Linked DNA regions of Homo sapiens: all the other regions are linked to region 1. Evidence: fine-mapped expression QTL. A gene starts in region 1. Each other region holds a variant in brackets. All regions are shown on one strand. Distances are from middle to middle.

The links.
Region 2: its variant is fine-mapped to the expression of SLC67A2 in blood mononuclear cells (TOPMed, PIP 0.97).
Region 3: its variant is fine-mapped to the expression of SLC67A2 in whole blood (INTERVAL, PIP 0.95).

Annotation. Positions count from the first base shown.
Region 1 is chr2:102,728,198-102,739,443 of GRCh38, forward strand. It overlaps SLC67A2 (solute carrier family 67 member 2), which reads right to left and starts at 8,691. Exons shown (of 6, transcript NM_032718.5): 1 at 8,449-8,691; 2 at 4,125-4,212; 3 at 2,828-2,871. The coding sequence starts at 8,613. It also overlaps a transcript of TMEM182 not described here. RefSeq lists a silencer at 8,598-8,807.
Region 2 is chr2:102,708,619-102,715,102 of GRCh38, forward strand. It overlaps SLC9A2 (solute carrier family 9 member A2), which reads left to right. Exons shown (of 12, transcript NM_003048.6): 12 at 1-2,737. It overlaps SLC67A2 (solute carrier family 67 member 2), which reads right to left. Exons shown (of 6, transcript NM_032718.5): 6 at 6,012-6,484. Among named protein-coding and RNA genes, the nearest start is that of SLC67A2, 25 kb to the right of the region's middle. RefSeq lists an enhancer at 1-176. The variant A/AT (reference allele first, on the strand shown) is at 3,075.
Region 3 is chr2:102,692,828-102,704,073 of GRCh38, forward strand. It overlaps SLC9A2 (solute carrier family 9 member A2), which reads left to right. Exons shown (of 12, transcript NM_003048.6): 6 at 1,587-1,676; 7 at 2,216-2,286; 8 at 8,243-8,404; 9 at 9,579-9,675. LOC124905954 (a long non-coding RNA gene) reads right to left here. Exons shown (of 3, transcript XR_007087163.1): 3 at 9,669-9,900. Among named protein-coding and RNA genes, the nearest start is that of SLC67A2, 38 kb to the right of the region's middle. The variant G/A (reference allele first, on the strand shown) is at 6,036.

The DNA of each region.
Region 1 (11,246 bases):
AAAAGGGTTAAGAAACAGGGTCCCCCATGCTGTGTGAAACCCTGGATGACCCCCAGTTCCAGTACAATGGGCTGGTCTCCATTAGTCCCGGCTAGGAGGTGACTGAGGCTGGTTCCTGCGTCCCTCCTTCCTCAGTGATGTTCCACAACCATTCCTCACCCTCTCCACTAACCATGGAAGGAATCTCACAGGCCACTACTGCATGCCAATTGCCAAGTGTAGCTGTTCATGCCCTCTCCCCATTTTTATTGATATGTTTATCTTTTTCTTAAGGGGCCGAAAGATCCCTTTACATAATGATGTAAACTTCCTCTATAAAATATTTTTAAGGTAAACCTTCCAAAATACTGTCATCCTTCTATAGGTGTCTTCAATCCTACTCCCCAATTTTCATTTCAATGAATTTTAGAAATTCCCCATACTCTTTTGATCTGGGGAAAGGGTTACTGGCCTCCTTGTACTCACAGGGCAGTGGTATAATCTGGGATTTACACCCTGGCCCTAAGCCTGGCTGTTTGGGCTCAACGCTGAACTCATCATTCCTTCCACCATGACCTCGGACATATGAGCTAACCTCTCTATGCCTCAGTCTCTCTACCTGTAAAACAAGAATAATATCTGCCTCAGAGATTATTTTCCCCACTCAACACTTTCTGTGTGCTTAATATAAAATGAGTCATTAAAGACCCATAACCACCCTTTGAGGCTGGTTATTATAAGGATTAGAGGAAATAAAGTTCTCAAAACAGGGGCTGACACATAGGTACTTAATAAGTGGATCATTTTTTATTAAAATACATTTATTTAAAAACATTAGCCAAATCTGACAGAATATACTTTTTCTGTATAAAGATTTGTTCTCAAAATTAAAAGTTTTTTGGTAAAATTTATAATTAAAATATGTGCTTACAGAAGTATGGGTTAAAAAGGAAATTTTAACTAGGAATTTCTGTATCTTAAGGCTTTCTAAGAAAGGTTTTCATTAAATTTCAGCTAAAAGACATATGAAATGTTCTGTGTAAGTACAAACATAAAACAACAAAGGAAAATCTGAAAAAAAGGGTAGAGTCATAGTTAGCAATAAAAATTTACATTTATAAAGTGCTAACTATTGCCAGGTACTCTGATAAGTAAGAGTATAAAAAAATTAAGCAAGTAAGCCTGGTCTGTATCTCAGGAAGACCAGAGTCCAGGAAGAGAAAACATTAAAAGAATTAACATACACTGTGACCTAATAGCTCTAACAGATACACACATCAGATATTTTGGGAGTGAGTTTACAAATAAAGAGAAAAGGTGTTTACTAAGATGTAACTCAAACTTTTCTCTCACAAGAAAGAACATGAAATACGACATTCTGCTTGACAAGCAAGTGCACTGCTCTCCTGTACAATCTGATAACTCTAGTTACCTATTTACCATTTTATATCATTAAGGCAATGACAGATGACTCTTAGAAAAAAAATAATATGGGCTTAGAGTCTAAATACTGAAATTAGGTAGCTTAGTCAAATTAACCTATGTGGGTCTTAATTGGTCTTAATTTCCTCCTATATAAAAGAAAGATACCAAACTACTTTGCTGGGTTACTATAAAGTTTAAATGAGGCTAAAACTATTATTGTAATGGAAATCTAATATATGAAATACTTCAATAAATCAGGAAGTAGCTGTTTACTTATTTAAGAATTTATTATGGAATCTGACTGAATTTCTTTTAAAAATATATTTTACAAGGAAGCAACTCTTGGGAAACATAAGTACACTTTGTGTTCATTAAATATGAGACCCCCAGGCCAGCTATTGAGACCAAAGTCACTACTGATCAATTGTGAGACTAAATAGACTATTCTACTGAACCGCCTGAACCACTGGACGCTGAGGTCTCCAGACCAGAGTGATCACAGTAGACATTACAGGGAGAGAGAAGGGGACATCAGGTAAGGTCTCTGAAATTCAAACAACTGAGTGGTCAGAAGTAGGGCACTGACAAGGTCGCCACTGAATCTGTGTTTCTTTTTTTTGATTTCTTAGAAACAGGGTCTTCCTTCCTATGTTGCCCAGGCTAGACTTGAATTCCTGGGCTCAAGCGATCCTCCAACCTTAGCCTCCTGAGTAGCTGGGACTGCAGATGCCAGCCACCATGCCTGGCCACCTCTGGATCTTTCTACTCCATGCTGCACATATACAATCAGCCAATCCAAATGTCCCCTTCTGTCTATACACTTAAGTCTTATAAAAAAGCTTTTATTTAGTTCAAAATACACAACTTTAAATAGAATAGCAGAAATATAAATGGATTTGATTACTGTCAATGAAGTGTAATAAATAATAAAATTGGTAATAACATTTTTTTTTTTTTTTGAGACAGAGTCTCGCTCTGTCGTCCAGGCTGGAGTGCAGTGGTGCGATCTCGGCTCACTGCAAACTCCGCCTCCCGGCTTCACACCATTCTCCTGCCTCAGCCTCCCGAGTAGCTGGGACTACAGGTGCCTGCCACCATGCCTGGCTAATTTTTTTGTATCTTTTTTTTTAGTAGAGACGGGGTTTCACCGTATTAGCCAGGATGGTCTCGATCTCCTGACCTCGTGATCCACCCGCCTCAGCCTCCCAAAGTGTTGGGATTACAGGCGTGAGCCACCGCGCCCAGCCTAAAATTGATAATAACTTTTGTTTACATTCTTTTTGTCTGTAAAAAGCAGGGAATTGTAGGAAGAACATATTACAATTTAAAGGTGTTCTCATCCCAAATCTATCACTTTTTGATAAACTTCAAGTCCCCAATTTTACTACATCTGTGATGGATGAGACATGTGATCATAACTTACCACCAATGTGCTAGAAAAGAGTTGCAAAATGCCATAGGAGGAGCCTGTAAAAAACAAATCAATAACAATAAAATCAGCTAGAGCTATCACAAAAATGGATTAATGTGATAACAATTACACAGAAACCAACAGAAAAACATTAGGGTAAGATACCTTTTTGTTTTAAATTATCTCACATCTTTTTTTTTTCTACTTGGAAAAATGGAAGTAATACAATTTCTAACAAAATGGAAGTAATACAATTTCTAACAAAAGGTTTTCAAAAAATTGAGGGTAAACAGAAGAGAGAAAAAAGGCAAAAGGTGACGTTATGGACGCTGTATGATTGTCCTTCCATCATATGAGATTGTGTAGCTTCAACTTATGAAACAGCATAGAGAGTACTCAGGGGAATAGAAATTTAAATTCTGGAAAAACCCTACTAAGCCTTAAAATCTTAACATTGTCTCTTATATTTCTAATGTGTACTGGTTTTATAAAATGATTTATTTTATAAAGAATTTATATTTTTTTTACAGAGCTCTTTTACCTCCATTATCATGCAATGTGCCCTATCTGATTTTCCCAAAAACCTTCACACTGCTGGGTGGTCCAGTGTAATTCCAAGTACATTTGTCGAGGGAAATACAAATCACGGCATGGACCATGATTTAACAAATATTATGTACAAGACTGTCCACAAACACTTGCTTGTTTGGCTTGTGAATGATCAAGAGCTGTTAGTCTCAACAATTTCCCATTAGTTAGCATAGTCCTAAGCCCTGCTGTCTCTTGCCTTTTTGGTAAATCAATGACTTCTGGATGGAATTTTTAAGCTGCACAGGCAGAGAAACTCTACAATATCTATGATGTGTTGGTGACGGTGTGAGAAGCTTGCAACTAATTGGCTAATGTTCACCGAAACCCTTTCCCACGAGATGTGATTTCTGTAGATTATGTTTCCCTGGTCTCTCACATTAGGTTAAGGGTTCCTGTAGGCAGGAGTCCACATGTACCTACCCTTTTATACACACAGCCAGCTCCTTGCAGAGGCTCCATAAGTACCTGTTGCCACTAGTGGCATGGGACTTGGTTATAGTGCTCAAATCTCAAAATCTCTTTGAACATACGTCGTCTAGAAAAAAAGGAATTGCATTTGCTATAGGGTAATATTTTAAAATATTCTGGAAATTTGTTTTATCTCATTTCCCACTTACCTTTGGATAATATTTGGATACAAAATTGAATTGTTTTCAGGTACTTGGTTCAGAGGATTTAAAATTCAGTGCTCTAAAAATGAGCAATATCGACCACTCACCTACTATTCCAGCAACTGTTGGACTTGCTCCAAGGGACTTGACATGAAGGCTCAATAAAGGCACAACCATGCTGACACCAAACAAATCCTAAAACAAAATAAATGCTGATGGACTCAAATTAGTATTTTTCAAACTAGTAAACCTAAAAATTTAAACTAATTTAAAAAATAAAACCAATATCTAAAATTTTAAACACGTAAGAAATCATAATTGGATTCCATAGCATGCCATACAAATCCGCTGCCACTTGCAAATGCCTGGATTAGTCTGACCTGGGATCCGTTTTAACTTTACACTCAAGGAGGATATGCTACAGAAGTTCCTCAAACAAAACAGACAAAAAACCCCATATTTTCTGTGGATAAGTCATAAGAAAAAATGCAGTCATAATTTGTATTTATTGGTGAACCAGCACTTGCTTAAAAATATGTTTCCTTCTGGAGTTGGCGAAAGTGGCTAATGTCCTAGGACCTGTAGTTTATAAGCTTATAAAATAATACCTGAGAAGAAAGGCTCAGTAAAGCAAGAAGGAAGAAGCTGGTGCACTAGGGAAAGGCCAGTGTTTTGCAGCTAAGTCATAGAAAGTGAATGGGCTTTGGGGTCAGGCAGACAGTTCTCAATTCCACCTCCATCACTTACTAAACATGTGTCTTTGGAAAGCTACTTAAAGTTACCAAGCTTCCGTGCTGTCATCTGCAAAGGGTAGAACAGTAATACCTGCCTGGTAGAAATATGATGAGCATTAAGTGGCATAATGCTTGAGAAAGGCCTAATAAAACAATGTAAGCTCAAACATGTCTTCTCCCTTCTTCAGTTCTGGGGATAAGGACAGGTCCTTTTTGCTAGGTATTCTGAGTTAATAGACAGACTGTTAACTTTTCTTTTAATTTTGTTCTTATTCTCACTAGGTTACCTGCTACAGTTGGTTTAGTGGGAGAAAAAACATTGCACACACACAGTTTTCATTATATTCGACCTGAATTCCTTCTTTCATACAGCTGGTTAGTTGGAAAGAAAGAACTCGCATGAAATATGTATTTTCCTTGAGCTCAGAGTTAATCTTTTGTTCCCCCTTCCCTGTCCTGGTAGCTGTACATTCATATAACTATAGATACATAAATTTCCACATACTCTTTTCAGTGGGCCTTTTCCATGGTTACATCTTTAGATGACCCTGTTATCTAATATCAAGTGACTATAATTAGCTCTTAAAATTACATTACCAGAGTGATGGTTTATTATTTCAATATTGCCATTACTTAAAATTTCCTTTGGGTCTGAGTCCATTTCTTTTGGGCTTTGCTGTCAGTTGCATCTCATCAGCCCACTGATGTTTACACATTTAAAAGACTCAAAATGTACCAGCCACCTATTGAATCTTCTGGATCTTTCAGAAAAGGAAACTCAATTGTCCAATAACCATTTTTTTCCAAAAAAAAAAAGTCCCAGTACAACATATCATTTAATAAAATGGGTATCCTAAATAAGAGATGGAGAGAAATATTTAGGTCAAGAGACTGAGCTCTATGGAAGGTAAGTATGAAAATACAGACTCAAAGGCAATAACTGATGATTGGTATTACTTTAGCACTTGGTGAGTCTGAAAAGTACTATATTCTTCCAAGGAGACTGGCCACTGAATCTTTCCTCTCAGGAAGTTCTGTTCTAAAATTGCCTTCTCCTTTACTATAAAAGGCAACTCCTTTCTGCTTCTCAATCCATAGCTTCTTCAAAATCGCTGCATTTGGCATCTGGTCATGTGCATGTAACCACTTGTAAAAAGATCATGTCAGAAGGGGCCACTTAAACTTTCACTGAATATCAACATTTTTCAATAAAAATTGATGAATATGTACACTCAAAAGTTTCAAGACTCTTTTCAGGGTAGGAACCCCAGTAATTATTGATTACTGGACTATCTCAATGAAAATGAATTATCACCTGAATAAAGCTGATGGGATGGAAAACAAATCTCACCAAGTATCTGGAGGAAAAAAGTGGTTGAAATAATAGATCTCATCACCATCTAAGCATCCTAAACAAAACGGGCCTCAAGGGTCATCTTGGTCTTCCCTCCTAAACAAATTAAAACTTGGAAGTACGGATAACTGCTAAAACAGAACAATTTGGCAAATGACTTCTCTAAGCTTGTTCCCTTCCTCTCCCATTCAGAAACCATTTGTCCAAGAATCTTAGAGGTCTCTACATCCCTAAATATGTCAAAAAAAAACTAAATTATGTATAATGTTCCTTAGATGTTACCTAACAATCATCTGTTAGGTAGCTTTATGTGACTTTCATGTAAAGCTTCATATATTTAATTGTTTACAATATTTTCCATTAAAAAAATCCCTACTCTTTCAACTTTTGGGAAACCATAAACTTTTCCCTTAAGATATGAGACACCTAATGGTTCTCTTGAATACATTATTAAAGTTATTAAAATTCTGTATCAGGCTTGCTAGATTAGACTTGCCAAATACACAGCATAAAGAAAACATATGATAAATTGTGAATATTCAAATCTGTATTGGAAGGCTGACCTTAACAAATGATCTGCGAATTGCTTTGTTTTATTCTAATACTAAAACTACTTTGAATTCTAAGTCAAATTCTCTGAACCCTAGTCTGGACTTTCCAGGTAAGGGCTCAAATGTTTTCATCTGGCTGAACCAGCCCAAGTCCCTTCTGAGACAGGACAGCAGTAGCTTGGGACCCATAACTAAAAAGGCTGGATGTCAGCCAACTCCTCTCCAAGAACCACCCATACTCACTGGTTGTGAATTCTAGGTGCCTAGACTGAAAAGTAGAAGAAGCATCCCCATGCTGAGAATGAACTACTAGATTAAAGGAATAGTGGTCAGAAGGAGTGCCAGTCTCTGAAGTTAAAGGCATGGAGCTGGAGGGTGGATCCTGCAATGGCCTAGAGGCAGAGAAATCCTCTCTAAAAAGCCGCCCTCCCTGAAGACCTTGTGTTTCTGGGCTTGCAGCAATTTGATGAACATGCTTTCATGGTGATCTTAACTATTAACTCAACATAGAGTTGCTACCAACTGAACGCCTTGCATGGAGGTGGTGGCATGGAGAGTGCATGAAACTGGGAGAAGTGGTGGTCTTGATCTGCATCTGGGCAGAAAACGATGACTCCCTGCCAGGGCCCAGTGCCATCAGATACTATCTTCAAGGCCTCAAAGGCAGCCTTCTCCCATTGACACTTATCGCAGCTTCCTTACCCTCAAGATACTGGATTAGCTCACACTCAGGGCTGAATCAGGCCTAGCCTTGGAAAGGGAGGAGTGCAGAGGTGGATCTAGGGTTCTTGCAGATAATGGCCCAGAAACTACCAACATCAGCTTACTTGTAAGACTGAATTCTTCTGTGGCAGAACTGTGGATTACAATAGTGAAGCTCCGCAGCACCTGCCACATGGCAGGTGTTCAGAAATGCCATGAATCAGCTTACTAAACTTTCCATTCTACGTGGGAAATTAGCACTCAGGGAGCAAACCAGGACACGCGCGCGCGCACACACACACACACACACACACGATGAAACCAAACCGCCATTGTGCAATGCACACCCTTTGTCCAAAGGTAGATGGGTACAATTCACTCTGATCTGCATTTTTAAACATTCAAGTCAACCGAGAGCTCTAGTGAAAATGCACCCAATTCTGTACAAGTGGGGTCATCAACAGCGGCTTCTCCAGCCTGGTCTGGTAAAAAAGCAAACCACAGGCACACACATCATGATGAAACCAAACCTACGCTGTGCAATGCGCAGTTTGTCGAAAGGCAGATGGGTAAAATTCACTCTGATCTGCATTTTTTAATATTTAAGTCAACCAAGAATCCTAGTGAAAATGTGCCTAAATCTGTCCAAGCGGGGTCAAGAGCGGCCTCCCCTGCCTGTTCTGGTAAAAAGGCTTGCGTGTCCCTACCTCACCAGCAGCCGCACAGCAGCTGGGCTTTTCCAAGCTTGCCCACACCCCTGTTCTCCGCCCTGCAAAAGCTGCACCTGCCACAGCATTTAACACCTGGTCACACCTGAGGTTGGTACCAGGGCTTCTCAAAAGGCAGGGAAGGGAAGACGTTCCGCGAACGGGGTGCAAGAGAAAGCGCGAGGGGCAATAAAGCAGTGTGGCCAGATGCAGACTGAAGTGGGTGATAGGGCAAGAGGAGAGCTTGATAGGTAGTGAGGCACTCACCAGGCGGACTGCGGGTTCCCACTCCCTGGGAGCTCCCCGGAAGCTCCAAGAACCGCCTGGGTCCCCAGGCCCGAACACAGTCAGCACTTGCTCCCAGCCCCCACGCTCGCACTCACCAAGAAGCCCACCAAGTAGAGACAGAGCAGGAAGCGGCGGGCTCCGACGGCACCGGAGTCGGCAGCCTCCGCCTCGGTTCCTGTCTTCTGCTCCTGTTTCCGCTCTGCGGTCTCCGAGACCAGCCTCGGGGCCGAGTTCATGTCCCAGTGACCCCCAAGCTCCATACCCGCGCCGGCCGGGGGTCGGACGCAGCAGCAGCCGCGGACCTACCCCGGGAGCCCAGCCCCGCCCCGAGCGGAAGCAGGAGGCGCGCGCCTGCGCAGAGAGAGGGGGCGGGTGCTACCTGGCAGCTCCGCGGGTGCGTGGCCGGTGCTGGCTGGGAGTTCTGGTCTCAGGCAAGGTGGGGACTGGGCACATCATCAATACGGTAAGCACACACCAGTTTGTGATGATAATGATGATGCTCTTTGTTTCCTCTGGGTACAGACCCTGCTGCCCCTATCGTTGGAGGACAGGAGGGAATTGTATTGAGCTTCACTTCCTCCTATGGAGTTGTGCTAGGAGGTGACCAACTCCAGCTTGAAGATCCACAGACCCTGGCCACCAGTTGGTTGTGACAGACCTAGGATACGTTAACGTGGCTCTCCAAGCTTTCGTTTGCCTATTTAAAAAGCAGTAGGAAATAATGTAGTCCAACTTCTAGAGGTGTGAGAATTCTACACATGCTTCTTAAGATCCTTTCTGGTGCAGTGCAATGTGAACAAACCATAGATGGTCTATGCCTGAGTTGAGATTACAGTCTCATGGAGTAAAAATAATAAGCACGCAGTAAATAAACATAAATAAAAATACTAAACATGCAATGAAAAAGCATAAAATAAGTAAAATAATATGGTGATAATATAAAGAAGCACGGTCTTGATGTGGAAAGTAATGAGGTGGGGAGTGAGCTACTTTAGAAAAGCAGTTTGGAGGAGGTGACATGTAAGCTGAGAAGAGTGGAAAGAAGATATGTGTGGCTGAAACTTCCTCATCAAACTGAGAGGTCAGCAGGAGTGCAGACCATTTAGGACCCAGAAGGCCATAACAGAGATTTGGGGTTTATTCTGAGTGCAGTGAAAGGAATTAAGTGAGTGCATGACACCAAAAGATGCCTTTAAATTACTTAGCAAAGCCCATGACACATGGTAAGTAATAAATGTTAACAATAGTGACTAGCCCCTCTTTTCTTTAGAACTTGTTATTTATTCCTCTTTCACTGTGGGATCAAGAAGACTCTGACATTTTACTGAGATTTTGCTCAAAATCTCAATTTACTTGTGTAGGTTGCTAATTCTGAGATCTGTTAAATTCAGTGTTGCAAAGTTTCTCATGGGAGGTGGCACTGAATAGGGAGAAGTGGAATACTGATACTTAGAATTAAGACATATAATTGAATCCAGGTGAAACTGTCAATCGTGAACCCCCAAGTTATTCTGAGACTCCTTTGCAGGAGAACTAGTTTGCTCTCCTATAGCTGAGGAAACTAGTCTTTTTGTGCTTGAAATTTTGTGAGTAACTCATCTGGGAAAGGCGCCTTGAAAGGGCTGCTCATGTTAACCCATTAAAACCACTCACTGTGGCTACTAAATACATAGCTAGGGTGAAATTTTAGCATGCTCTGGTGACAGGTACACATTATAACCTAGGAGGACATCTCATACACGCCAAAAGAATTGGAAGTCACGGCCAGGCGCGGTGGCTCACACCTGTAATCCCAGGACTTTGGGAAGCCAGGGTGGGCAGATCACAAGGTCAAGAGATCGAGACTATCCTGGCCAACATGGTGAAACCCTGTCTCTACTAAAAATACAAAAAATTTAGCTGGGCGTGGTGGTGCGCGCCTGTAGTCCCAGCTACTTGGGAGGCTGAGGCAGGAGAGCTTGAACCCGGGAGGCAGAGGTTGCAGTGAGCTGAGATCGCCCCACTGCACTCCAGCCTGGCAACAGAGGGAGACTCTGTGTAAAAATAATAATAATAAAAGATTTGGAAGTCTCTGCTAATATATAATCAATGTAAACTTTAGAAACCTGGGGGAGAGATTTCTAAGGGTGTCAGACAAAAAAAGGGAATAATATAACACTAAATTAGGCAGAATTCACTAGTATAGATGCATTTACAACATATACCGATGTAATATGTTAGCTTGTGCAGCTGGAGGCAGCTCTAGTAGTTTAGTCAGTTGGTTGAAATTTAGACTCAAAGATGGCCTATATTTAATGATGTTCAGATGCCAGAGTTTTCCTGGCAAAATGTGGATAAAGGACTCCAAAAGTTTTGGAAAAATGACAATGTCAGAGTGGATTTATTATGTATGACTTGCAAGCCTAATACTCAAATATATTCCACGAAGAGGCCAAGACGACACTTCCTGCACTAAGGCACTGAGGAATGTATTAGTGAGAGATGCACTTGCAGTTTTGAAAAGATTTGCGATTGCTCTCTTTTGTAGGCCAGGTATAGCCATAGAGGATACCACCTTTAAGATAAGCTCTCTGATTATATGAGGAAAAGATTTCCAGATTATCAGAGGCCAGGTCATAGCACTTAAACTCAGAAGACAAGGTGGACACATTTACTTTTAAGGTCAGCAGGAGTGTACCAGTCACCAGAATGCCTTGACCTGCAGGGATCTTTGACTATGGCTAATTGATTATAGCATCCCTGGGAATGAAATAAACAGAAAGCCTACCAATGATGAATACCCCAAGCTCAGTGTTCCTCAATTTTGATGTATAGCGTTCATATGGGTCCACTGCTGACATGGTTTGGATCTGTGTCCCCAAGAAACCTCATGTCGAATTGTAGTCCCCAGTGT
Region 2 (6,484 bases), 22 kb before region 1:
TTCATGCCACGGATAAATGAGGCAAATCCGAAGAAAAGGAAAATCGAATAAAAAATAGTCCCACAAAATACCTTTTGTGACTAATGGGTAGCAATCGTATTATTTGCTGGCCTGAAGAGAAAAAATGGTAATGTGTGCCTTTATTGAACTTGAATGACAGAACTTGAAATTTTTAACACATCCTTCTTGGTGAAGATTTTAATATATTACTTATATGCTTCAAATTTTATTTATGAAAAAATATGTATATCTGTAATCAGTTGTTAAGTGAATGGCACTAAAAGTATCGAGAACAGCTTTCTTTCCCAGGGGTGAAGGATGGCGCTCGGGGGTGACTCCTAAGCTCAGCGTGGAAGCTTTTCCCTGTCCTGACCCGATGGAGCAGCCGGTAAGTGAAGAGCACAGCTGGAAGCAGAGACACCTTATGACTCAAACTGGGCAAACAATCGGAACGTCATGCAGAAGGAATGGCCTGACTCCTGCAGTGCAGATTGGAGGCCCCAGAACTCCTATGAACTACTGAGAGTCTACTGGTTTTTAACTTGTTCCTCTGTCTACTGTGTGTTTGGGGGTGACATCTAAATTCCATTTCTTCTTCTTGTTTAAATGGTGCAGAGAGAAAGGTTGCCCAGACATCCACCAGCTTACTGTGTTGACAGATTTGGGAGCAGCTTTTGATGAAGTTCCACCCATGAGGGTCCATGTGGCAAGTAGGGCCACAGGGCAGCACCTGGTTACAACTTGCTGGTGGGTTTTATGTTGTGCAATACTAGGAGGAGGAGGCAGGTGATCTATGCTGATCTATGATCACCTGCTTCAGTAGAATTTTTCTGTAGAGTGTTGTTTGAATTTTGAGCCTCCAGGTTAGAGGCTCCAAGCAGACAAAGAAGAAAGTTTGTAGACACAATATTCTAACATTGCACAAGTTGATGAGATATCAAGTTTTGAATATTATTCAGGAAGCACTTTGGAGAATGTGGGAGTCCTACTGTTTTGCACTAGTCTGTAATTTGTTACCTCTCCCCATTCGATAATATAGTAACTCAGAATTTTCATATAAAATTGAATTCTACTCATTAGAGTACTTTTTAAAAGTACAGCAGAAAGAAAAGAAGTGGAACATAAGCATTCAAGATTAATATTTGATTCTCTATCTCTTAACTGTAGATTTTATTGGCCTGTTTTTTTTTTCTAAATAATTCTTTAAAACTTGACTGGAACATGCCTCTGCATTTCTGAGTGTAGAAATTAAATGAAGCCACTCACAGTCCTTTGATTTCCCACTGAAGATACCCCAAAGGATGCAAGTGCCTACAGTATTATCAGGAGGAGAACATGAAAATATTAAGACAAAAATCCTCAGCAGTTGTTCTCCACCCCTTCTCCACCTCCACCAGCAAGGAGAAGTCAATCTACACTTTTTTCTCATGTTCTAAAGTCTTAGAATACTGCTGGATTGTTGAGCATGAGACAGAGCAAAGGTTAGATACACAAGGTACAAGTTCATAGGAGCACAATTCCTTGATTCAGGGAAAGTAGCACAGAATGCAATTTGAAAACTACAGGCTTAGGACTCTGTGCCAAAAATCTCTATTTTAAATGAAAATATTTATATAAAAATACATTTATTCTGCTTAACACAAATTAAAACTGACATAAAATTTTATGATAATAACATGATTCAAGAAATGTGATGTAGATTTTTGAGAATGCCAAAAATCAGGTTTCAGAAAAGCTACAGTATGAAATCTGAAAAGCAACAGAAATTGAAAGTGACCTTAAAGAATAAATTTCCTAATTTTTCCCAGTTTCCTATGTTTATAACTATTATAAAGAGTTTAACTTTCTGGAACTGAAGGAGAAAACATGAAAATGTTTATATTGCTTCTTGTTAAGCAGGTAGACCAAATTCCGCTTTCAGTAATTCATCCATACAGAATTTGGATGACTATGTATAAAGGAAAACTTAAATCTTAATTATTATCAGTTTAAATTTTTTTTGTTTGTTGAATGACAAAGGCAATAAAAATAAATTTGACTTTAGCTTTTTTTCTATACTTTCCTCTTTTTGTAATTCTTAAATTCTAGTCACTAGTCATTATGAGAGTATTGACTAAATATTTTCACAATCTAAATATTGTCACAATCTAAATTTCTGTAGTAGAGAGAGCCGTAGCCCTTTGTAAAGGCTTTCGTTCGTCCAAACAACACTTGATCCAACCAAAGTTCCAATGTGACTGTGGATCTTTGATAGGTCTTTGGTGTTGGTTGTAACAAAATTTGATTTGAACTACCTATAAATGAAAAGTCGGGGTTTATTACTTTATATGTAATGCTGAGAGGAGACTGTTGGGAACAGTTATGTCAATGAGCAAACTAGAAATTGGCTTCAAAGTCTAATACTTTTAAAAGCATGTGTTTTGTGTATATGCTCACAAAATGTCTGTGAAGAGATTTCTTTCAGCTTTTGCTCAGCTTTATGGTGGGGTGTACTGTTTTATCTGGGCGGTGAGGGTATTGATTTACATAAAAACTGTAGACAAACACAGTACGAGTCTCAGCACGTTTTGCATTTATTGTACTGCCCAAATTGTTTTTATGTTAAAAGTCACGTTTCATAATCTGCAATATTTTTGTCAAAGTGCACACTGTACTTTCTTCTTAAAAACGTGATTAAAGAGATCACTTTGTCCGGATGAAGCAGCTGTTGGCATTATCCGCTGAGGCTTGAACACCACGTGCTGATTCTCTCATCAATCTGAAAAATAACACTCGTGGCTCAGAACACACAAGGTTAAAGTGTGTGGCGCACTGCTACTTTTTATCTCACTTTTTAACCAACCCTTTCTTCAACCCTCTTCTAAGGAAAGCAGAAGTCCCCTTTGGGTACCAGCTGTGTGGCATAACCATGGCTCCTTGTCCCTGACAGATGACACCTTCCTTTAGAATCCACCAGCATCATCCACTCTGCGTCTAGCTGACACCCTCAGACAGGGATCAGCCACCCTGGGGCGTGCAGGTCAAATATGCAGATGGGGACTTTGCAGACCACTTCAGTGTCACGCTGGCACATC[A/AT]TTTTTGATCCTTTTTCCTTTTTAAACTTCCTGCACCTTTTCAGATAAAATCATATTTTACTATGTATAGCTAATAAATCGTAGTTTTGTTCTCTTAATCGCATGGTCAGGAAATGAGTTTTTCTAGGTGTAGAGTTAACCTGTCTACTGTGAATGGATTATTATCAACTTTTCAATCTACACAGCATAGAGATTATTTTGATGGCTCAGAACATACGTCAAGAACTTTCAGTATGTGCAGAGGTTGTATGGGAATCTGTTGTTCTCCTACTGGAGGGTACGGAAATGTCACTCCATGAGATGCCCAGCAGACAGAATACCAGATACAGAGGCTGTGATTTTTCTGATTTCTGGAACAAAACATCTTGAATTAAAAATTCAGACATTTTAATCCTTTTTTATTTTATTGGCTCCTGCTGAGTCATAAGTATGACTGGAGACTAAATTTCTAATTTAGATGAAGCTCTTTGTATCCACTTAGGATAACCCTGCTTACCAAACAAATTTTGTATATGTACACGGACAAAGGAAATTTTTCCTTGTTTCTATGAAAAATCTTACCAAAGTTTAAATATTAAATCACATGTAAACCTTTAATCACTTATGGAGAAAATAGTACATACATGAAAACAGAACAGTCCCAGTTTTTGTATTTGTGTATGAAACCACTCTCATTTATGTTGAATGGGATTGTGATGGCTAGAATTCTTCAAAGGTAAGAGCTTCAGAGTATTGAAAATTTCAATTCTATTAATTCCAAATACATATATCTCAGACTAGGCTAACTCTATTACAGTGTAATAGAACGTGATTAGAGGAATAAACATTTTAATTGGTGCATTAATTTTTATATCTAAAAAGGCTCTGCAAAAGGGCTCAAAAATGGTGTATGCTTTTAAATATTAAATACGGCCTTCCCATGCAAACGTAAAGAAAAGAAGTTAATTCCAATTATTGCCTTAATAATTTTTAAAGATTATGCAAAGATGTGTATTAACACATCAAATTTTAGGTTTCCATGAATACATAGTTTGGCATCTGATTAATAAATAATAGATTTGCTACCATAACTATGTCTTACTATTGAACCTTTAGTTTAAGTCCTGACCTTTAGCTAGAAAGTTATTTTGAATGGCAGTAACAGTTCATCATGCTTTCAGTGCTATTCACTCCAAAGAGATGCACAGTGAAGGTACTTTGAAGGTGCCCCAAAGAAAATGCTCACCCTTGTCAGTGACGTCACAGACTGGGCCTGACAGATGTTAGGCTTTGAGATGGCCAGGCCTATGCTTCAGCCCCACAGAACAGACTACTTAAGGCAAACACCTACCAAGTCGCATACATACAGCCCCACAAGGGTCCAGCCCGAGTCAGCGGCAGAACACCTTTATTAGGTTTGCTTTGGATATTTCATGTGGTTTCAATTTCATTAAGCAAACTTGGGACAGGTTTAGGTAGGTAAGCTATCACACAAAAAACTAGTTCTGTCTGGATAAGAGGCTGTGTCTCAACTACTCAAAATGGCATGGAGATTCTTTGGTAAGCTTGAAGGAAGACTGTCTCCTATCCATGTTATAAGTTGCAATCATTAATAGGTATTTTAACCACTTTCTTCCTCTACAGTGGATGCTTAGAAAAAAGAACTGTATCAAGATGTAGTATAAAGACTGATCAAAATACAATTCTTTGTTCAAACAAGATCCTTACAGTTCATTCTTACGCTGTGTAAGTTATCAGCAATAATTAACACTCCTTCCTTAATGTTTATAATTATCTTCTCCCTGGAAGGAACAATACAAGCTGTGTTAAGTCACTTTTAAAAATAAGAATCAGTGGCCAGGCACCGTTGCTCACGCCTGTAATCCTAGCACTCTGGGAGGCAGAGGTGGGCGGATCGCCTGAGGTCAGGGGTTTGAGACCAGCCTGGCTAACATAGTGAAACCCTGTCTCTACTAAAAATACAAAAATTATCTGGGCGTGGTGGCGCGTGCCTGTAGTCCCAGCAACTCGGGAGGCTGAGGCAGGAGAATTGCTTGAACCCGGAAGCAGAGGTTGCAGTGAGCCAAGATTGTGCCATTGCACTCCAGCCTGAGCAACAGAGTGAGACTCCATCTCATAAATAAACGTTTCTTATAATATACTGAAACAGGAAAACAGAAGTTTTGCTTTTATTGTTTTAGTAGACAGCTATCTATAAAATGGTGTTTAGATACCTGTTTGGGAAAAATGAGAGATCTAAGTATTTGTGCATCTGCTTAACTAGAAATAAATCCTACTGTGAGATGTTACCTTAAAAGTACAGTTGACCCTTCAGCAACACAGAGTTGAACTATACAGGTCCACTTAAACGGGGATTTTCTTCCATCTCTGCCACCCCTAAGACAGCAAGATCAATCCCTTCTTCTCCTCCTCCCCCTCAGCCTACTCAAAATGAAGGTGGCAAGGATGAAGACCCTTATGATTCCATTTCCACTTAATAATATTATTTTTCTTTTTCTTAACATTTTTTCTCTAGCTTACTTCATTGTAAAAATACAGTATATATGTAACACACAAAATACATGTCAGTCGACTATTAATATTGTTGGTAGGGCTTCATGTCAACAGTAAGCTATTAGTAGTAAATTTTTAGAGAGTCAAAAGTTACACTCAAATTTTCTACCGTTTTGGGGGCTTGGCACTCCTAACCCCTGTGTTGTTCAAGGATCAACTGTCCTCTACTTACTGGCCTTCAGTATAAATGTCAGATTACATATATATTTGGTATCTGCATAATGGTTTTAAAAGCCAAAGCCTTGTTTTTAATATTAAGATGTGTTCTAGCATACTGGAGATGACATTTTTCAAAGCACTTCTGGATCCTGAATTGAAATATGTAGCAAGACACATCAGTGACTTCTAAAAATACAACTTATAAGAATAAATGACAGTTCCTCATTACAATTATAAAGTTTTATTTTTGAAGAAAATTATCATGTGACTGGCAAATTCAAGAAAAAAACATTAGAGCTGAAAAAAAGTTATTTTAATCCATCAACCTGTTCCAAGAAAAGCTGCTACACATCATCCTGGCTAAATCTGTGGTAACCCTGTTTTAGAGACTTCTTGAAGGCTACTAGGGGGCAAAGAGGCATGGAGATTCAGTCTCATGGCTTTTATTATGCATTCCAAATAAATAGCTGTTTTCTGAATGCAGTTGCCCAAATGCCTAAAATTTTCTGACTGGACTGATTCTCACTCCTGATAGATTTCTAAATACCTTATAGAAGTGTCTTCAGGAAAAGACGCCAAGCAACCCTTTGAAATTCCTCAAAGCTGCACACTCATCACCTGGGAATTATTCACAACCTCTCCTGCGATTGCCCTGTGGGCCACAACCTCTGCCTGCTGTCCCTGTCCTCGCGACCAGC
Region 3 (11,246 bases), 35 kb before region 1:
AATTGTGTTTTTCCTGATATCTCAAAATGTCCTTAATCTTCTTCAGTTAAATTGTGTAGTTCTCCTTGTAAAGGTTTTATGCATTTATGATAGGGTTTTATACATATATAGAGATAATGGATAGTATATCTATGCATATTTAGTATCTATATAGAATACTAGTGTATTATATAACATGTTATTAGATACTAGCATATACTTATTAGATACTAGTATATACTAGTATTTTATATATATATATATACACACACACACTCTTTTTATATGTTTTTTTCATTGCTATTGTAGGTGTTTATTCTGTTTCATTTAAAAATTAACATCTGGGATGGATTGGGCATTTTGAATTTGTGTTAGTTACTGTACCAAATTTTCTTGTTATTTTTAAATGAAAAGATATTATTTCAGGTTTTTTAGGACAAAAACTCAATCATCCAGGAGCAACAGAAACTTTGTCACTTCATTTTCAGTACTTATACATCTAGCTCTTCATCTGTCTATTCTTCTCAGTTGACTGGGACATGCAGAACTGTGCTGAAGAGAGGCAGAGAGCTGAACAGAGACAGACAGAGCATCCTTGTGTTATTTCTGGCTCTAATAGAAATGCTTATAATGTTTCATTTTTAAGTGATATGTTCACTATTGATTTCTGGCATATGTCTTTGTCACATTAAGGAATTTTTCTCCTCCTAGTTTACTGAAGAGCTGATAGTTCTCCACATTTCCGGAGTTCACTCATGAACGTGCCCAGACTGGCCGCAAGCCCCCTCTCACTGCGGTGCTTTGCTGTGCTGTGGTCTCCACTGGGATATGCTTCCAGCATCTCCACCACTGCCCACCAGTGTCTCCTCTGCTCCAAGCTTTCCTTGACCTGCTTCCTGTGCTAGCCCTGTCATCCCTCTTCTGCTTACTTTGTAACTGTTTTCGGAAGTATCTGACTTTGTATAAGACTGCAAAGTCCTAGAACCCAGGTCCTTAACTATTCACCATTGGGTTCCAAATGCCCAAGACCCTGATATGTGTGCAGTAGAAACTCAGTGAAAATCGTTTTAATAAATGAACAAATGAAGGAGTCATTGATAAGTTTTCTATGGATAATACAACAAGTAGGTGATTCCTCTGAACTGGATAATACTTTATTATTATTACTATTATTATTATTTTGATAGAGAGGGTGTTTCACTATGTTGCCCAGGCTGATCTTGAACTCCTGGCCCCAAGTGATCTGTCCACCTCGGCCTCCCAAAGTGCTGGGATTACAGACATAACCCACTGCATCTGGCCTACTTTATTATTTTGTGTAATTACTTTCTCTGCTTCTTCCATTTTGTCTTTGTTTTTGTTAGGACATGGTCCTTTTAAAATATGCCAGCTATTTGAAAAGAAAGAAAAATTAACAAAAAGTTACATTTACTGTGTTAAATCTTGGTAGCCAAATATCTTTTGTCATTACTTATCAAAGCTTAGGAGAAGTTACCCTTGAATATTAAAATGTAGTTTATAAAAAATTTATATTAAAATTTTTATATTAAACAATTTATAAATTGTATAAATATATATGAAATGCTTAAATTGTGTTTCCTGTTCAGGGAATAACTATTCGACCACTGGTGGAGTTTCTTGATGTCAAGAGGTCCAATAAGAAACAACAAGCTGTCAGTGAAGAAATCTATTGTCGGGTAGGTGTTAAGAGAGTGTAATAATTTTAATGATAAAGGAAAAATATTTGAATCAGTCAAACAGCTTGGTACCACGTTGTCCATTTCCTGAAGAAGAAGGGAATGGCAGGGTGAGAGGGAGGAGGGCCTGAAGAAGGTATTTGCTGGGGGAGTATAGAATAGATATGGCCCCACGGTAACTTCTCCAGGTTAGCTTACTAAACTCCTGCATGAGTAGAGAGACAAGAAGTCCCCTCTTCTTACTTCCTTTAGCCTGGAAATGTTCCTACTGGGAAATTATTACCATATTTCATACTTTTCAAAATTATTAACAAACTTATAGGTGAGCAAAATAATCGAAGACTTACCTAATACTGATGTGACAAACACTTCATCAGTTTGTTTGAAAATGAACTGTTTTATTGCTTTTGGTAATAAATAATAAACAAATAAGAAGCAAAAGCCATGAAGGTCTTTGGAGTTTAGAAATGATACAAGTAGAGTGAAAATTATTGATTTCAGGTAAAGACTAATCAATTTGCCTGCTTTTTCTGTTTTAGTTGTTTGATCATGTGAAGACTGGAATTGAAGATGTTTGTGGACATTGGGGTCACAACTTTTGGAGAGACAAGTAAGAAGGTCTTATGCCATTGGGTTATGAAGTGGCCCAGGGTCATTCTGAAAGCAGGACTTACTGATTTGTATTATTTTTTAATTGGAAATCTTTCCTGTGTTGTACCATAGTATGTCCTCTAAGATAAAGTTCAGCTATAACAGAGATGTGGAATAATAGTAGCTTAAACAAGGTAAAAGCTTATTTCCCTCTTCTGTAAATAGCCAGAGATAGGCAATTTAGGTTTAACAGATGAGGTTTACTCCAAGACTCCCCCAGGGTCCGAGGACTGTCTGTCTAGTCGATCCACTAAGAGTAGCCTTCATTTCCAAGGTTGCCTCTTGAACCACAATGGCTGCATCAATATTAGCCATTAGAGGCAGCAAGAAGGATGAAAGATGATGAGTAGACAAAGCATATGTGTTATTAATAGCTGCCTTCTAACTGAAACCATCAGAAGCTGCCATATGATTCTTCTGATCATTGGCTTGGACTCAGTCCTATGGCCATTCCTGTCTGCAAAGCAGGCTGAGGAATGCAATCTATTTGGCTGAAAACTAGGGCTTCCATTACTATCCATTTTGCCACACATGGTGGGAGACTTTGTCAAATGCAGAGATTCAGACCATCTAAGGATGTAAACAGATGAGCAGAAATAACGTGTATATATATATAATATATATTATATATATATTATATATATATTATATATATATATAATATATATATAAAAAGCTAAAATTATCTGAAAAATTACATACATTTATATAAATGCACATACCTACAGGCACACAGAGTTTACCATTCTGTAAAAGGCTCTGTGTTGGATAAATACAATTCAATACTGGTCTTCAAGGATCTTAAAGTTGAAGTGGAAAAGGTAGACCAGACAGGCAGAATTAGATGTATGCTTTAATATAAACTGAGAAACAGCATTATGGGTCAAGAAATTTGGTTCAATTCTGACAGCAGAGCTAGGAGCAGTGGGGTACAGGAGCCAGCCCCCACTTGCTAGTGGGAGCTCATCACGTACCTCTCTTCCTGACTGCACATTTGGCACTGTCCAGAGTGGTTGCTTGAATCAGGGCTTATATCATGGAACTGACAAATGCTACAAATCAAGGCCCTTTTTTTTCATAGAGAAATTTGTTAAACATTTATTAGCATATCACTGGCTAGGCGAGACTTTGGAAGGCAGCATTTAAGCTAATCCCTGAAGACAGAAGAACACGTTTTAAACTATATTTGGTAGATCCCTCTTGTTTTATTTTTCCTAACTTGCTAACAGAATTTTTTTTCCCTCCACTGCTAATTTACATGAAATTGACCAACCTACCAATGTCTGCAACTTAACACAAGGGAATTTTTTAGTGTTTCCTGTTTGCTCATATATGCTGGCATAATATTGGGCTACATAAGAAGTATAAGCCATAGACTCAGGCCTCTGAAATTCTGTAGTATCACAGACACAACAAAACCGTCACACAGCAAGCAGACTCCTGTGTGTGTGTATATATGGGTGTGTGAGAGAGAGACCATTAGGGAATATAATGAGTGACAAAGACATTCAGTGCTAGAACAACCTTTACAAGCTTTACAACACTGTTTACTACTGTAGACAGGGCCCTGGGACTCAGCCTTACCATATAATGAAAGGAAAAAGATTTTGTTTGTATGGAGAGCACGCCCAATTAGCTACATGGGAACACAAGGTAATAAAATTAAGCAAATTATATTCTCCATTGTAAAACTATTTTTTAAATGGCCATTTCTCAGGGGAAGTATTCCCTTTTCTGGAGGCAGGTGGTAGACCAGAGATCCTATACATCTACCCTATGACTCTGGGACATTCCTAGCATGAGGGAGTCCCCATCTGTGCTAAGCCAGTAGAACAGAACTTTTTGCCTCTCTTCTCCACTGTTTTCATAGTAATGCCTATTTTCTGCCTACCTTGTTCCTTTCAACTCAACTACTATCCTCCCTTTCCCTAGCATCCCCTCAGTACTTTTCTGAAATGACATATGAGAGGCGTAACCCAGAACAGCTGGTTCCCCTTCCAAAGTGAGTGTTAGGTTCAAGATATCTAGTGCTCCTCTGCCTCCCAAATGGGGGAATATAGATCGGCCTCACACAGTAATGAGGCCACCTGGTCCTGGGGCACTGTCAGAAGAGGTAGATGCTGTGGTCACTTGGGTTTGGCCTGGAACTCAGGAGAAGAAATGTCAGAGAAAGTCTGGCTACGTCTGTCTTTCAGGCAGAGACATTATCTCTGGAGTCCATGAATCTGCCCTAAGCACACATCCAAAGGCTGCCAGATTAATTGGCTGTAAGTCCTAAAGATGGGAGAGCCAACCTTGCTCCATGCCTGAAAGGTAATGTTACATGGCTAGCATTTGCCACTGCAGTGGATACACTTATTTTAATAATTTTGTAAGTATTGATATATTTCCACGCACAACTTTTTTTCCAGGAAAATTTCAAAGTTTCAGCACCACATCCCCCCGCACCTACTTCCCTGCTCTACCTATGATATACAGTGTCATAGACATCATAGATGCTGTATATCACAGGTAGAGCAGGGAAGTGGGTGCGGGGGGATGTGGTGCTGACACAAGACTTCTTAAAACTGTGTTCTGCTGAGATCACATCCTTGGTGATTGTTAATGTTACTAAAAATCAGCATCAAAAAGAAGCGATTGTTTCAGGCATGTTGGGTGTCTTCCCTTTTCTCTGGAATCCTTATGCTGTGGATTTCCAGTGGTTCTGCCAGAGAATTCTTGAGGCATTTGATCCTTTGAGAATGAAACGAAGGGTGATACAGTAGGGACCCTTCTCACTCTTGGCACAAGCAGTCTAATGATGGTGAAATAGAATGCCTATGTGTAGCTTAGCAGAGAAATGAAAGGTGTGGAAATGAAGCAAGGAAAACGCACTATCCCTACACGAAATAGAGCAGATGCCATTGTTCTTGGTGCTTGTTCTTCCTTTTACTCTCTCTAGTGAAAAGCTAAAACAACAATAATAATAAAAGAAGTTTTAAAAGATGTGTTGCTGTCAGGAGTCCTGGTCCAATGGGCCTAACATAAAACTCCAATTAAAAGTAGAGAAAAGTAAACCCAGTCCTTAGTGTAGTGGCCAGCCAAAAACCAAGCACATTCAGGATGGCTCTTCTTTAATTATTCAGAGCCCTCTAGTATTTAGAACAAAGGACTATCAACAAGAATGTAGGTTAACATCGATTCCTTCCACGGCACAGGTGTGTCTATAAACCTCCTTGGGCTTGTGGTGATCACGTAGTACACTTATTTCTTTCTCAACAAATATTTATTGCATGCTGCTTCACTTATGTATTGGCATAATAATGTTGTATAACAAACCATCCCCAAAACTCAGCTGCTCAGAACACGTCATTATTATTAAAGTGCATGAGTCAAGAGGCTGATTGGGGTTGGGCTTGGCCAGTTGGGGCCAGGCTTGTTCATGTGCTCCAGTGGGTTGGCTGGCTGCCAGCTGATTCTGGCTAGATCTATCTGGTGTGATTGGAGTGAGGTGACTCTGCTCCATGTGACAGTCACCTTTGTCCTCGGACTAAGGAGCCACTCTGCATATCCTTCTAATAGTGATTGTTGAAGCACAAGAGGTAAGCCTCCATGTGCAAGCCCAGGTTAAGCCACTGTTTCTTTCATTGTGTCTGCTAATAGCCCACTGACCAAAGCAAGGAACATTATTGAGCACGCTGGCAAGGAACAGGGCAAAGCAAGTCATCT[G/A]TGCCATGATGGAAGGTCATTGCCAAGTAATATGGCAGAGGGTGTGGATACAGGGAGGACTTGGGACCAAATGATTCATTCTACCACACGTGCTTACAGTGTGCCAGGCACTGGTGACACAGAAAAAAAAATCTCTGCCCATGTAGACCTTACATTCTGTGCTAGGAGACAGAAAGTAAGACAAGTAAATTGTATGTCATGCTAGAAAGTGATAACTACTATGGGGAAAAATACATCTGGGCAGCGAGATGGGGACTGCTGGGGGAGGAAGGTTGTGTGCAATTCTAACAGGATGGATAGGAAGGGCACTTGTGAGAAAATGATTGTCAAGGAAAGACTTAAAAGAAGTGTAAAAAGTGAGCCCTGAAGGTATCTGGGGGAAAAGGATTCCTAGTAGAAGGAATAGTAAGTATAAAGACTCAGACATGGGAGCACTGCTGGTAAGTCTTTAAGATAGGAAGGACACCAGTGACGCTGCAGCTAAGGAAGAGGGGCACAGTACCAAGAGGGCCAGATCCAGATTGTGTAGGAAGTCACAGACCATTGTACTTGTACCCAAGGAAGATGCAGGACAGTTACATCATTAGACATATTTTTAACGGGAGCACTTGGGCTTCTGTAGGAATGCAATGGTGGAAGCAGGAATGCCAATTTGGTGCTCACTACAAGAATCCGAGAGAGAATGATGTCTTGGACCTGGGTGATAGCATTAGATGAGGTGGGAGATGGCTGGATTTTGTATGTATTTTGATGTGGAACCAACAGAAATTGCTGATGGCGCAAAGATTTGGAGTACTAGTCTGCTAGGGCTGCCATAACCAAAGTACCACAGATTGAGTGGCTCAACAGAAATGAATTGTCTCATAATCCTGGGGGCTAGAAGTCAGACAGCAAGGTGTCAGCAGGGCTCATTTCTTCTGAGGGCCACGAGGGAAGGTTCTGTTCTACGCCCCTCTGCTTGGCTTGTAGATGGCTGTCTTCTCCCTGCCTCTTCACATCATCTTCCCTCTCTCTGTATGTTTTGGAATCCAAACCTCTTCTTTTTATAAGTACACCAGTCATTTTGGATTTGGGCCCATTTTGATGGCCTCAACTTAATCACTTCTGTAAACACTAGATCTTCAAATGTGGTCATAGTCTGAGCTACTGGGGATTAGACTTTAACATATGAATTTTTGGCGGGACACAATTCAGCCCATAACATAGAACATGAGAAAAGTAGAAGAATCCAGGATGACACCAGGATTTTTGACCTGGTGGAGTCATCGTTTGCTGAGATGGGAGGACTCTGGCAGAATATCAGTTCAGTTTGAATATGTTAAATTTGGGATGCCCCATAGATATCCAACTGCAGATGTTGAGTAAGTAGCCAAAAGCTCATATCTGGGGTTTGGCCGAGAGGTTGGAGCTGGAGATACAAATCTGGGGGTCATTGGCATAGAGATGCTATTAAAAGCTAGGAGACTGGGCAAGATGGTGACGGGAGTGAGTGGCGGTATGAAAGAGGATTAAGAACCGAGGCCCAGAGCACTCCTACATTAACAGGTCAAAAGAAGAAAACAAAACTGAGAGGGAGGGTGAGAAGGAGGTTGGGGTACCCCAGGGTGGTGTCCTGGAAGCCAAATGAAGACAATAGTTTACACAAGTGAGGGCAGGAAAGATGAGGATTCATAATTGCCCACTGCAGTTATATCATGAGGTTCACAGACCACTTTGATAAGAGTAGCTTTAATGGAGTATTGAGGCAATGTGAATGTTCAAGAGAGAATCAGAGGAGAGGAATTGGGGAAAACAAACAGTGATAACGTTTCTGAGCAATTTCGCTAAAAGCAGAAGTAGAGAAATGGTAAAGACAGAAACATGTATTTTAATCTGTAATTAATGAATACTAGATTTATGTGCATCAGGGTCATATACAAAAATGTAGCAGTATGTGTCATATATACATATATGTGTATGTGTATGTATATATACATATGTATACATACACATACATATACATACGCATACACATATATACATATATACACATACACATATACATATATACAGGTAGGCACATACTAAATATATAAAATGACCAGATTAGCTAAATGCTGCTACTAAGTATTTTCCTGGGAATGGCAGAAATGACTTCATTGGTAAAAACAACAACTATTTTCTTAGTCAATCCAGTATTAATTTATTGAAAGTTTCTTTATTTACAGGTTTAAGAAGTTTGATGATAAATATCTGCGGAAGCTTTTGATTCGGGAAAACCAACCAAAGTCAAGTATTGTATCTTTATATAAAAAGCTTGAAATAAAACATGCCATTGAGATGGCAGAGACTGGGATGATAAGTACTGTCCCTACATTTGCATCTCTAAAGTAAGTATGGTCTTGCAAATAAAAGTTAGTATTGTTAAATAGGCATTGATAGTATTTTGAAACTGGTAATAATAATTTTAAAAAAATTATTATTAATTGATCCGCCCCCCTCGGCCTCCCAGAGTGCTGGGATTACAGGCATGAGCCACTGTGCCCAGCTGCAAATACTGAATCATTTTTCTATGGGGACATAAAGGTTAGGTTCCTTTGAGCCTGTGGTCACAAAATTTTCATCAGCCAATCAATATGTAACCTATTTTATGTATGTTTATGTTTACAGACACCTTATTTAATATATATTGCTAATTCATTAACATTGAATTGATGGTCAAGAACACTATAAATTCATGTATGATCAAGCTTAGTTAACAAATTTTCTCCATAAGGCACATCACAGGGTTCTTGTGCTTGGGAACTCTAGACAGCACTTCAGCAATGCCTGGGGGCCATTTAAAGCAGCAGAACCACCAATAAATAACATAAAAATATTAAAAAATCATGTCACTAAATAGACTGTGAGAAGGACATTATTTATAGTATGAGAGTGGAAACAAGAAAGCAGATGTCTCCTTGTTCAACATCTTCAGGGAAACTGTGTCAAGTGACTCAAATTTTTTGTCACTCTCCATATGTCTGAGAATAACTGCAAAAATACTGAAATTCTGATATTGGGTTTATAAATCAATATTAGCAAGTAGGTGAGGTGAGTTCATGATTATGGAACCCACAAATGAGGATTGACTGGATATACATACATGTTATAAATGGTGTGTTTGCAAATATTTATGATGAGGTTTTTAAAATATGAAAACTTAATGGTAAATTGAAGTCAATTAGGTTTCTGTTGGAGAAAACTATTCTATTTTACTTTATTTATGGAGTGTTAGAAATAATAAAGTGAGGTAGCATTATAAGCCATTGTAGTTTTTCTTCCCTGAAAACATAATGACATGAATAGATTCTGAAAACTTGTGAATTGTTAAACTTGCCATGAATGATTTTGAAACTGAAATAAGAGTCACAGAATTTGGAATTATTTTAAGTTATTGAATAATCCCTAAGTGCTATTTTTACAAATTAAGACTTGTCTTAAATACTTATATCTCTAAGGAAGAAAATCAATGATTCTAATATTTGTTGAAAGGTAAAATATTCTTTTTCTAAACTTTCACAGTGATTGTCGTGAAGAAAAAATAAGGAAGGTCACGTCCAGTGAAACTGATGAAATTCGAGAACTCTTATCAAGAAATCTCTATCAAATCCGTCAGCGAGTAAGAATAATTTATGTAGCAAAATATTTACTTACCTTTGGCTAACAGGATGCCTTCTGGTTTTGTGCTGTAACTGGAGGCTGCATCTTGACACTGGGCTCAGCAGGTCCCATGCTGGGCATCTTCTCTCCTTCTGCTTCTCTCCATCCCTCTTCAGGGTCCTACTATCCTCCTGGACACCATGGCTGAAGCCTTGGGGTCCCCTGGGAGTTCTGCTGCTGTGGGCTTGGATACAAAGAAATACACGTTGACTAATTTTAAAGAAATGAATTGATTGCTGTTTGTTTTAAAGAAATAGTTTTATAGCTTAGACTTTAAAAATGGACCTCACCCTCCTTGTTATTTATAAAGTGCTATAGTTTCTTCTCTTCTGAGCCACTTCTTTCACTTCGTTTCCATTGTTAGCACCTTATTCTAATAATTTGCTAACAACACAGCTACAGAGTAGAGAGTGTCCTCAATTTTCCAAGCCCCATTTCAGTGTGTTGCATGCATTAACTCATTTAATCCTCCAGTGAGTGGTAGGTGTTACTGTTGTCGCCATTTCACAGATAAAGAAATTGAGGCACAGGGAGGTGAAGTGGCACACGGGCCACACAGCTTGTCAGGAGTCCTCCTTGCTCATGTGGGGGCTGTTTCAGCAGCTTCTTAGCTGGTGTCCCCATAAGGTGTCCCCATTTCATCCACGTGACTCTTACCTGACCCTTTTTCCTACAGTACCTTTTAATTTAAAATGAAACAAAACATTAGTTGTGGCTCCCAAGCTAAACTATTCGTTGAAAATTTGGACTCTATTTCCAAGTTCCACTTTATCCAACCATATTTCCACATCTGCCTCACCCATCTGCTCCCTGAAACACCCAGGGAGTGAGAGGTTCTGTTTTCGTTCTTTGGCCCAGGTAGCTTTCTCGCTGTCCCCTGGGAGCATCTCACACCTTCCTGTCAGCTGGTCAAAAGCCTCCAGTTTTTAAGGCTCCCCCAACAGCCACCATATTATTCCCATCCTTGTGGTTAAATGGAATAGCACTTGGAGCTTATACTGTACCATGTAGATACAGCACTTATTTCCATGATTTTGCATAATTTTGTTAGCCTTAGATGCTCAGTGAGATGGTAAACTGCTCAAGGCAGGAATGAAGCCTTGTTCTGTGTTATGTTTGCATCTCTCAATAGAACCTAATATATTTCTGGACACAGGGATATTCCCAAGAAGTACATGTTTATTCTATCAGAAATGAATTTAATTATTATTTATGATTTAGGAAACACATTTCTATATAGCCTATAAAACTAAAAGTGGATTCCATGTACAGCCCTAGTTTAGAAATTTTACTTTTCAAACACTGGGATGTAATCATTGTGGGGAGTGTCACCAGCTCTCTTCATGTAACAACCCAGTTGAAAAAAGGGAATGTGCTGAAGTTAATCAGAAGGGCATGGCACCACCAAGTGGCTCAAAGTGGTTTGTTTTTAATGTCAGTAATTCCTATTCAAAACAGACTGTAGGATGGTGGCTTGTATTTTATTTCCAGATATTCATGATGGCTAAATACCTACAAGAGGCTTCAAGG